Linked DNA regions of Homo sapiens: region 1 is linked to region 2. Evidence: fine-mapped expression QTL. A gene starts in region 2. The other region holds a variant in brackets. All regions are shown on one strand. Distances are between the middles of the regions. Region 1 overlaps LOC107985357 (a long non-coding RNA gene). Region 2 holds the start of PGBD5 (piggyBac transposable element derived 5).

Region 1 (5,372 bases), 150 kb after region 2:
CAGGAGTGGTGGCTTGCCCCTGTAATCCCAGCTACTTGGGAGACCGAGGCAGGAGGATCCCTTGAGGCCAGGAGTTTGAGGCCACAGTGAGCTATGGTCTCACCACTGCATTTCGGCCTGGGCAACAGAGCGAGATCCTGTCTCTATAATTAATTGATTAAAATAAAGTAGACAAATCCTTTGAAAAGGATTTTCTGCTGGATTTGCAGCTTTTCGCTGTTTTCATCTGAGCTTCTCAAGAGAGTTGAAGAGATGTTGCAGAGAAAGTAAAGTTGAATTGTGAGTGACAGACGTGGAGGAAAATACCTGTTTGAAAATCTTGTGATGATAGATGAAGATAACTGTTTTCCAAACATTTTCTAGAAAGCTGGAGGAATATATGGCTAAAAGCACAGGTTCTGCCTCTGCCTGAGTTTAAATTCTTAGTCTCTCCTTTGTATCTATGATGGAGAAAGTTACTTCCTGAACTATAGTCTCTTCATCTGAAAATAGGGGTAATAACAATATCTATCTCCTAGGTAAATGTAACACATGTCTGAGGCATTAAGCATGACACCTGGTATCTCATAAACCCTCAGGAAATGTTAGCTATTATTTAAAAACCTTACTAATATACCTATTTTGTGGATAAGGCAACAAAGGGCTAGAAAGGTGAAGTATAACAAGCCCAAGGTAGAGGCAAGATTTGAACCTAGGCATTCTGACTCCAGCACGTCATATGTAAGTACCTAATTACTACGCACTGGTGCCTCCTGATGGCCCATTCCCCTTCCCTGGCGGGCCCTCCCCCTACCCCTCCTCCTCCTTCTTCTTCTCCTCCTCCTCCTCTTCCTCCCCTTCCTCCTTCTTCTTCTCCTCCTCCTCCTCTTCCTCCCCTTCCTCCTCCTTCTTCTCCTCCTCCTCCTCCTTCTTCTCCTCCTCCTCCTCTTCTTCCTCCTCCTTCTCTTCCTCCCCCTCCTCCTCCTTCTTCTCCTCTTCTTCCTCCTCCTCATCTTCTTCCTCCTCCTCGTCCTTCTTCTCCTCTTCCTCCTCCTCCCCCTTCTCCTCCCCCTTCCCCTTCCCCTCCTTCTTCCCCTTCCCCTTCCCCTTCTCCTTCTTCTTCTCCTTCTTCTTCCTCTTCTCCAGACAAGGTCTTGTTCTGTTGCCCAGAGTGCATTGGTGCAAAAATGGATCACTGCAGCCTCAACGTCATGGACACAAGTGATGCTCCGGCTTCAGCTTCCCAAGTAGCTGGGACTACAGGTGCACCACCATGCCTGGTTATTGTTTATTTTCTGAGGAGACAGGGTCTTGCCATGTGGCCCAGGCTTGTCTTGAGCTCCTGGGCTCAAGCGATCTTCCCGCCTCAGTACCCAAAGTGCTGAGATTACAGGCGTGAACCACCATGCCTGGCTCACCTGACTTCTTAAGGACTGTCTTCCTGTGTCCCAAGACTCAGTCAAGACATTTCTATGAGGTTTTTCCTGGCTGTTTCTTACCAAATGGGTCTGACCCCTCCTCCTTTTGCACCCTGTTTCTGTACATCCTTCTTTACAACATCCACGCCATCACTCTGTGGCTCTCTGTTTACTTGTAGAGAGCAGGGCCCAGTTTGAGTAGCCAACCTGCCTGAAACCCACCCAAGCTCTGGACTTTAATAAGCAGATACATTCTCTTTTTGCTTAAGGCTGTTTGAATTGGTCTTTCTGCCACTTGCAGAAGAGACTTGATGTACATCTTTCATATCCCAAGGTTCATTCCAATCATGGACCTTACTTGAACATGAAAAAGCTGTACACAGGGTCCTGGAAACCTTCCTTTAAGTGGACATCAGTCAATTAATCAATATCCTTTGGGTATGGTTATTAAACCAGTGACTACTCTACTTAATTGTAAATAGCATCTAATCCATATTTCCTTACACTGTTCTTAAGCAGGTCATGAAAAATTGCCAAATTACTGGTACACTTTCCAGATCTACCTATCAATGCCATCCACATGGAAACGAGAATTTTCTAAGTCACTGGTTCTTAGACCGGGGATGGTTGTCACCACTGATAACACTGCTAGTGCAGTGGGGGGCGTGGGGTGTGGTTCTCATCTATGTGGTTTCTCATGCATCTCCTTGATGGTGAGAATTTTCTAAGACTCTACAAAGTTTCTTAGCTCTCTCCCATGTCTCCTCCACTTCGAAGATAGAGTTCTTTAGCATTTGTGCACATATGAGCCAATTGTCCCTATAGCACTTAGAGACAAGTAGCCCCATGTTGGGAAAGAAAAATAAAATCTTGGAACCCCAATTCACTTTGACAGAAGGAAAAAAAAATAAGCCAAAAGCTGAATCATGCAAGAAGCTGTCTATCCTTTTGTTCCTAAGCAGATAGCTACAGATGAAAGGTTAAATATCCCCACAAATAGCTACTATATATTCACCTTATCTTATACAAAGTGCCACCTCACTGAGCACAAGACTAACTCATAATTGACTATTCCCTTACCTGCTCCTTTTCTCTTGCAACTTGTGGGTTCTGTACTGTGACCATATTCTCCCTCTTTCCTCTTCCACCTGCTTTTCCCCTGTAAATATTGACGCCCTCAAAACCATCTTTGGAAAATGGCATGGAACAGAGATTGCTCCCACAAATTTGTAATCCTTATTTCTGGGCGTGTTTTTAACTTTGGCAAAATAAACTTCTAAGTTAATTGAGACCTGCCTCAGATACGTTTTGGTTTACAATGTTATGTACACACCTGTGTTTCCCATATTCTGTCCTGTCTCAGTCAACTTATTGTATCTTTTTTTTTTTTTTTGTAATGATTGGTTGCATGGCAGATCTACAGTCACTCAGACTCTTGGACTCAAAGAATAGCAGACCAACAGCAGCAATCAGCACCACCTGGGAGCTGTTAGAAATTCAGCATCTCAGGCTCCATCCCAGATTTACTGACTCTGAATCTGCATTTTAACAGGACACCAGGTCATCCGCATGCACGTGGAAGCTTCAGAAACACAGAGTTAAACTTCGCGTAGTGGAACGGCGAGTGGTGTTCTTCTGGGTTGCCTTTGCTAGTTTGCATGTTTTCCAACTGTCCATGACGTCTCCACATCAAACGCCCTCCTGAATAGTGGCTCTCAGCTGAATAATTGGTCGTCTAATGCCTAAGTTGTTAAA[C/T]AAAACAAACTTTGAAAGTCAGCTTTTTTTTTTTACAAGCCTTAGCTCACAGTGGCCTTTTGCTTCCTGCTGTTTTTCTTACGTATCCGGGCTGTTCTGTTCTGTTTCTGCGTGGCCTTTGCCTTGTATCCACCATTGGTATAGCGTGGTGATATGCTTTCTTTCTTTGAATTTGCTTTAATTTTTAATATTATATATATGGTACCTGAGATATTTTGATACAAGGATACAATGTGTAATAACCACATCAAGGTAAATGGGGTTCCATCACCTCAAGAATTTATCCTTTCTTTGTGTTACAAACGTTCCAATTATACTCTTTTAGTTCTTTTAAAATGTACAATAAATTATTGTTGACTGTAGTACCTTGTTGTGCTATGAATCTTTTTTTTTTTTTTTTTTTTTTTTTTGAGATGGGGTCTTGCTCTCTCACCGAGACTGGGGTGCAGTGGCCTGATCTCAGCTCACCACAACCTCTGCCTCCCAGGCTCAAGCAATTCTCCTGCCTCAGCCTCCCAAGTAGCTGGGACTACAGGGATGCGCCACTACTGCCTAGCTAATTTTTGTATTTTTAGTAGAGACAGGGTTTCACCATGTTGGCCAGATTGGTCTCAAACTCCTGACCTCAAATGATCCACCTGCCTCAGCCTCCCAAAGTGCTGGGATTACAGGCATGAGGCATCCCACCTGGCAGGATACTAGATCTTATTAACTCTATCTAACTCTATTTTTGTACCCATTAACGATGATATGCTTTCTGGACAGGCAGACTTATTCTTTGCTAATGCCTCCTTTTCTTCCAATATCATTTGCAATTGCATGGTTATTTGGCTTCTTATACCACCCTATCCCCACCTGTTGTTTGCTATTCCCCCACCTCTCAATCACAGGTTTATTGTAATTTTGGTTAAATCACTTTAATTGTCTTCATATTGTTAATTACACATCTAATATATTATAGTTCCTTTCTTTTATAATTAATTGCTAATTATGGATTTAACCATCGCTTAAATTTAAGTGCTGAAATCACTTTCATTTTCTTAGGCATTTATGTGCCTCTAGCCAGTTCTTCCCATTTTCTCCGTAGCTTCTCAATATAATTTTCTACATGATGAAGTAAATTTTAATTTTCTTATGATTCTATGTATGTGTAGATAATTCTTCCCATGCCCTCTACAGCTTTTCAGTTAACTTTTCCATGAGATGAGAGAAGCTATCGGTTGTCATTTTGTTCCAGAGACATCCCTCCTTGGAGCCGTCTGGCTTCCTGTTGTAATTGGAACGAATTGACAGACAGGCCAGCGGCCCAGCTGACATTCTGGGGCTTCCTTTCATTATCATCTTGCTTATCAGTGTGGGTCCAATCAGGAGACAGAAAAAGGGGAAGTTTAATATAAGCAATTATTAAACTATTATAGGAGAATAACTATAAAGATGTAAAGAAAACAAAAACGGGTACCCGAGGGTTGGGAGAAAGGCCCTAAGGAGGGGCTGCCTGGAGGGGCGCTTCTTCCCCAGGTTGCATCCTTGCTGAGAAGGTGCGGTTGCAGACTCCTCGATGGCAAGGGAGTTTCTGGGCTACTGGGGCCTGAGCTTCTCTGCCTTCACTTGGTAAGCAGGAATCCGGCCTCTTGAGTGTGAGCCAGCCAAGGCTGGTGGGGGGCATGCAGAGGGAGCGGAGGCCACACTGCAGTCAAAGCCCTGAAGCACAGTGTCTGTCCCGGGGCTGGGCAGGGGGTGGAGGATGGGGACACAGCAACGTGGTTCCTCGGCCCCAATTAGGACCGCAAAGCCTTAGGAGGCTCATGCTCTGGACGTGTGGCTGGGGCAGAGCACCAGCGATGTTTCCACACAGAGCGCACTGCGGGTGGTCAGAGCGGCGGGTGCAGGAAAAGCAAAGCACAGCCACTGCAGCTAGAAAGGACGTTCCCTAAGTGCCCTTCCACTGCCCTCTACTGACGAAGCTTAACATCGTGTTCGCTATAAAAGAGGAAAGCTTGAAAGCTCAGTTCATTTTTGCACAGCAGGTACTGAAGGGTGAATTTAGAGCTGACAGGCCATAAATGCACCCCTGGCACAGACTACCCCTTTGAATACCCAGGTTTCATACACACTCTTCTACACACATTTGACTGTCATACAAAAACCAAACAACTCAGTATTTCTACCTAACAAGTTATGGCTCTCCTTCTTACAAGGGAGGAACTCTCACCTTCCCCC
Region 2 (5,328 bases):
GGACCTGGATCTCAAATGTTCCAGGATCGAAATTACATCACAGATGCTCACGGCATAAAGTCTGCCAAACCAGGTCTGTGGACTGGTACAATTCTTAAAGAGCCAATAGGAAAACAGCTGTCTAGGGCCAGGAGACCTTAATGACATCCTGGAAAATATAGGACAGTATAAAAGGACTATAGAGAGTCAATGATTTTGAAAATTCCCAAGCTCTTAACTACAGCCCAAATGCACATGCTTTAAAATGTACCCACCCCCAAAGCAGTGCACAGCTAACTGTGACTTTGCAAGCCCAGCTTTAGCTCCGCGCATCCACACCGCAGCCTGCCAGAGGTCTGCAGACCACTCCCTACTCAGAGTCCAGCTAACCCTACCGGCCTCCCAGCAGGCTGCAGCATGATGCCCAGATCCAAGTCCAGGCACCAGCTGGAGGTCCCTTGGGCCTGCCTTCCCATGTGCCGTGTTCCTGACCGGTTGAACAATAATCAGAGAAGGCCACAGGAAAAGCCGCATCATGCCCACCGCGGCCACTCCCTGGCCCTCATCAACACCGGTTGCGCGCACTTCTACGGAAGAACACAGCATGCAGGAGCACGGGCCTGCTACAGAAGGCCGTGGAACAAGAAATACCAGCATGAGAGGGCGGCTGGTCTGCAGCTTTCAAAGAAGGCAGAGGCTGCGGAGCTTCTGCAGAGGAAGTGGTGATATTTCAACAGCCAACTCCCACAAAAACAGACAGTGAAGAGGAGTGGGGCAGCCGCAGCTGCCAGCACCCTAGCCACCTTCTCCAGGTATTCGGGGCTTGTCTGTGGCCACAGTGGTAAGCAGGACACACCTGAAAGTACCTTCTGGCGGAAAAGCAAGCACCTTAACGCTGCCCAATCGGTCCCTTCCTTCACTCCTCCCCATTCTTAACAAGAGATCTGGAATGGCGCGGACAGGGAAAGTTTCTCAGATTAAGGAGAAAACTAAGCCAAGTCAAGACGCCGCGGGTGGCCTCTCTCTCAACTCTCACTGGGCCAACTCCTACCTGCCTCGCCCGCGTCACCTGCTGTAAGGCTTGCTCTTGGGCTGTCAGTGAAAAAACGACTCCCCCTGCCTCCACCAGCCACGCCGGGCTTTCAGAAAAGCCCCCTCAACTAGGAAAGCCTAACTTCAATCCACCCCTAAAAGTCCGACCCACAGGTGTGACAGACTTCCCATGCAGGGGCTGGGGTGCTCCCAGGAAGTGAAGGAAAAGGTCCCCGACGACATTGTCACTGGAAAAGTGCTGGCCACGGCCTCCGCCTTACCCTCTCCACCCACGGGTTCGGAGCCCCCAGGAGCAGTCAGACCGATCACCGCTCCTGCAGCCTCATTTGTTTCCGGAGAGACACCCACAAGCCAGCCCACGGAGAGTCTGGACTCGCCCGCCCCAGCACCCACGCCTCCCCCGCGCCCGGTTCCAGCGCCGCCCCCGACATCCACCCGCGGGCAGCCCCTTACCGCCGGTATCCTCGAAGCGCGGGGGCGGGCGGTCCCGCAGCGCTGCGCTCCAGCCCGCGCCGGCCTCGTCCTCCTCCGGCTCCTGTGCGTCCGGGGCGCGGGGCGGTGGCGGGGCGGCCCCTGGGGGTCCCGGGGGCTCGCGCTCGTCGTCCGAGGAGGCGGCCGAGGAGGAGCGCGAGGCGGCCGAGGTGCTGTAGAAGGGGTTCCCGCCGCTGTCCGGGCCGGACTCGCCGAACACGTCGTCCGAGATGTGCAGGCTCTCGTAGCGCGCGCGGGCAGCCTCGAGCAGCGCCGGCGCCCTCCTCCGCGCGCCCCCGCCGCCCTCGGCCATGGCCCCGGCCGCCGCCCGCGCGCCCGCCCCCACAGTGCCTCCCAGCCGCACACGCCGGGCCCTGGGCCCGCGCCGCGGCCCGCCGCCCCCCACCAGCGCAGCCCGCAGCACAGCGCCCGCCGCCCCGTGCCCGGCCGGCCCGCCGTCTTGGCCGCCTCGGGCCCAGCGCCCGGGGAAGCGCCCTCGGAGCTCGGGCGCCGCAGGCTGCGGGCCGCGGCGGGAGGCGAGCCGCGCGCGGGGCTGGCAGGGGCGACCCAGAGCGGGCGGGACGCAGAGGCTGCGGCCGAGACCAGGCGCCGCCGCCGCCACCGCCGCCACCACCGCCACCACCGCCGCCGCTGCGTCTCCTCGGCGCCCGCCGCCTCCCTGCCCGCCCTCTCCACGGCCTCCGGCGCTCGGCTGCCGACCTTCCCGGGCGCGAGCCGCCAGAGGCGGGCCCTGCCGCCCCTCACCTCCCGCCCGCCGGCCAATGGGGAGCCCGGCCCGGACAGCCGCGGGGGAGCTGGGCGGGCCCGGCGCGGGGAACGCCCCCACCCTCCTCCGCGGGGCGGGGCGGGGCGCGCGGCCGGGGCTGGCGGTTAGGGGGAGGGCCGCCGGCGGCAGTGCCGGTCTCCTCCTACAGGGACGCGCAGCCCGGGACCGCCACGCGCAGCGCGGGAGGGGGAGGGCGGGACCGGGGAACAGGAGGGGAGGGGGACCCGGGTGCTTCCAGCGGTCCGGGCCCGCGGACGGAGTGCGGGCCGATCCCGCTCACTGTCCCCTTCCGCAGTCCGCGTGCAGCTCCAGGGAGCTGTCCGCCCCGGTGGTTCTGAACCAGGCGCCGCCGAAACGCTCCAGGTAGGCGGCGGGCCCGAGGTCACCACACCCGCGGCGGCGGCTGCTGCCGAGGTTTCCTGGGGGTCACTGCCAGCTGCGCCGCATGCTCCCATAAATACAGGGGCTGTCCAGCTTCTGGGAATCTCGCTCTAATTAGGAGCCCGCCTCGCCGGTCCACTGTTGGTCGCTGGTCAGATGCTAACTCCGTCTCGCTTCAGTATCCCTGTAATTTAAGGGTGCCAGCACTGGAGTTAAGTAGCTAGTCATTCCTCATCATCGTTGACGTGTGGCATCTTTTGAACTCAAAATATCCATTACTTCCAAATACTAATTACTCTCACACCTCTATTTTAATATCTCCTTCACACACACACTTGAAACACTCATGTACTGAAATATTGCATGATCACCCAGGCTTCAGTGCTCTCATAAACAATAGCACAGAAAGGTTGCATCCGCCCCTCTTCCTTGGGCAGGAATGTGTGGTGGTCATCCTGTTGATGGCGATACGCGTAACGGAGACTGCCTTGTCTTCTTGCTCCCCTCCTCCTCCTTCGAATAATGCAATAAGTCACACTAATGGTAAATGGGCCATAAAGTCACTTTCACTCTGAAATAAAATAAATCCTCAGAGATGTGAAGGGCTTACAAATCCTACTGAGCATTAACTAAATTGTAGTTACATGAAACAGAAAGGCATGTTGCGATTTCTACGAATGCATAAAGGATGAAGGACCATTTTGCCGCCAAGTGGGGTCACTTCTAGTGTCGAGCAGGAACCTTCACTCATGCCCTCCCCTCCCCAGCCCCTGTGGTTCCTCCTTCCACATCAGGGGCTCTGCACAGGCATAGGTTCATGATCATCACTAACAGACAATATATAAAAAGGAAAAGATTCATGGAACTTTCCTTGCTATGTGGATTGGCTGAAAAATGAGGAAGTGCTTGCAAAGCATTTTTACTCTCTTGGAAGAATTATGCCACGGAAAATATCTGGTTTCCAACATACCTATATACTGTGCTAACCAGCTGAAAGTTGTTGAAGAGAGTACAGGTAATCTGACTTATCAAAAAGGGTGATAGTAAAGCATAGGTTGAAGATGCAAGAAGAAGAGTAAGACTCCATAGCTCAAGTTCAAATTCTGCAATTAGGAATTGTGTGAGGCTCCTGCAAGATTTCATGTTATCTATTTTAAATAGTTGAATGGAAAAAATAATTGAATGGGATTCAGAGAGTTAAAATCTGTAGGAAAGAGTTCCTTCTTTTCTTCTCCAGCTAGCCAATGAAAAAGTCAACAGCTAAGGTACGTGTTTTAAAAACGATGAATTGCTTTGCTACCCATAAGGAACCAAGGAACAAAACAACAGCAGTGGCAAGGATGGACAGAGTCTTCCGGTGTCCCTAATTTGCATTTGTATGGTGCTAATTCCCAGGAAACCTTGGGGCCTTGTGCTTCCTAGGCTCACAAATGCTTGTAGCTCACACCACATGCAACACTGAGGAGAGGATTATATGGACACAAAAGAAACACTGAGAAGTCAAATTGTTACTTCAAAGCTTGTCCAATAAAAATTAGATGAATATTTCAACTTAGAGTGAAGTATTTTATAGCACTTACATTTGTTTAAGCCAGTTTCCAAACAAGAAAAGTAAAAACATTCCAACCTTTGAAAACAGATGACTGCTTCTCACTGTGGTAAGAGAAGGAGTGAGGGGACAAAACAATTGCAAAACAAAAGCTTTCTCCTCTGGCTGGCATCCTCCTATTTGATAATGACGATTATGATTCTACATCATTAACTTTTATTAGTAACATCATTTCTGAGAGTAATTATAGAATATATATCACACTGAGATCTTTTAACTTTGAGTCATTTGAAAACATCTTCCAAATAATTTAATTATAAAATATAATTAAATAATTTTAGATTAATATTGAGCTTTTGGTTTTATGGTTTTCCCAAACAGCTCAAGGTAGTAAAAAGCAATTCATTTGTGTAGTAGATTCCTTAGGTTTTGTTAAACCAATGGTTCATGCTTTTATGTAACTAGGGCTAAGCACCATATTTCATTAAGTCTAAACCTCCTTTCATGGTACAGTGAACCATTGTTTTATGTATCACTAAAAAAGAAAAAAGTGCTGCCATAGGAAACTATGATACAATGGTTCCTTTTCTGTTCTAATTATAATTTAAACTTATTGAAAAAGCTATTTGATCATAATTTTTGGACAGATTTTTATTACGTATCACTCTATTGCATGCATACAGATAAAATATAAATTAATTGATTAAAGTTTTCCGAATTTCACATTCAGAATCTCACTATCCTTGTTTACTTTCTAACTCAGAGCTGTCAATGCCCAGGTTTTCTCCAGAATATGCTCCTCCAAGTCACTCAGAGCATTTGGTATGCTGCATTTCTTACACAAGTGCTCCTAACTCATCCAAGCTACTGGCCTCCCACTCTATGTGTCCCCCAAGCAGGAGCATGCTAGCTGTGGTCAGCCAGCACTGAGGAGGCAGATGACAGAGCTGAGAGAGAAGTGGTAGCAGATGAAATCAAAGAGGAAGTTGGGTGGGTGTTAAATCTTGCAAGACTTCAGATTTTATTTGGAGTGATATGGGGAGGCACTGGAGAGCATAGAGCAGAGAAATAAGATCTTGATGCTGATGTTTTGTTTGTTTTGTTTTGT

What was found.
Region 1: its variant is fine-mapped to the expression of PGBD5 in blood mononuclear cells (TOPMed, PIP above 0.99).

What each region holds. Positions count from the first base shown.
Region 1 is chr1:230,576,805-230,582,176 of GRCh38, forward strand. The region is part of intron 1 of LOC107985357 (a long non-coding RNA gene); the gene reads right to left. Among named protein-coding and RNA genes, the nearest start is that of LINC01737, 16 kb to the right of the region's middle. The variant C/T (reference allele first, on the strand shown) is at 3,153.
Region 2 is chr1:230,424,113-230,429,440 of GRCh38, forward strand. It overlaps PGBD5 (piggyBac transposable element derived 5), which reads right to left and starts at 2,220. Exons shown (of 7, transcript NM_001258311.2): 1 at 1,486-2,220. The coding sequence starts at 1,816. RefSeq lists a silencer at 2,167-2,486 and enhancers at 2,295-2,842, 2,843-3,389.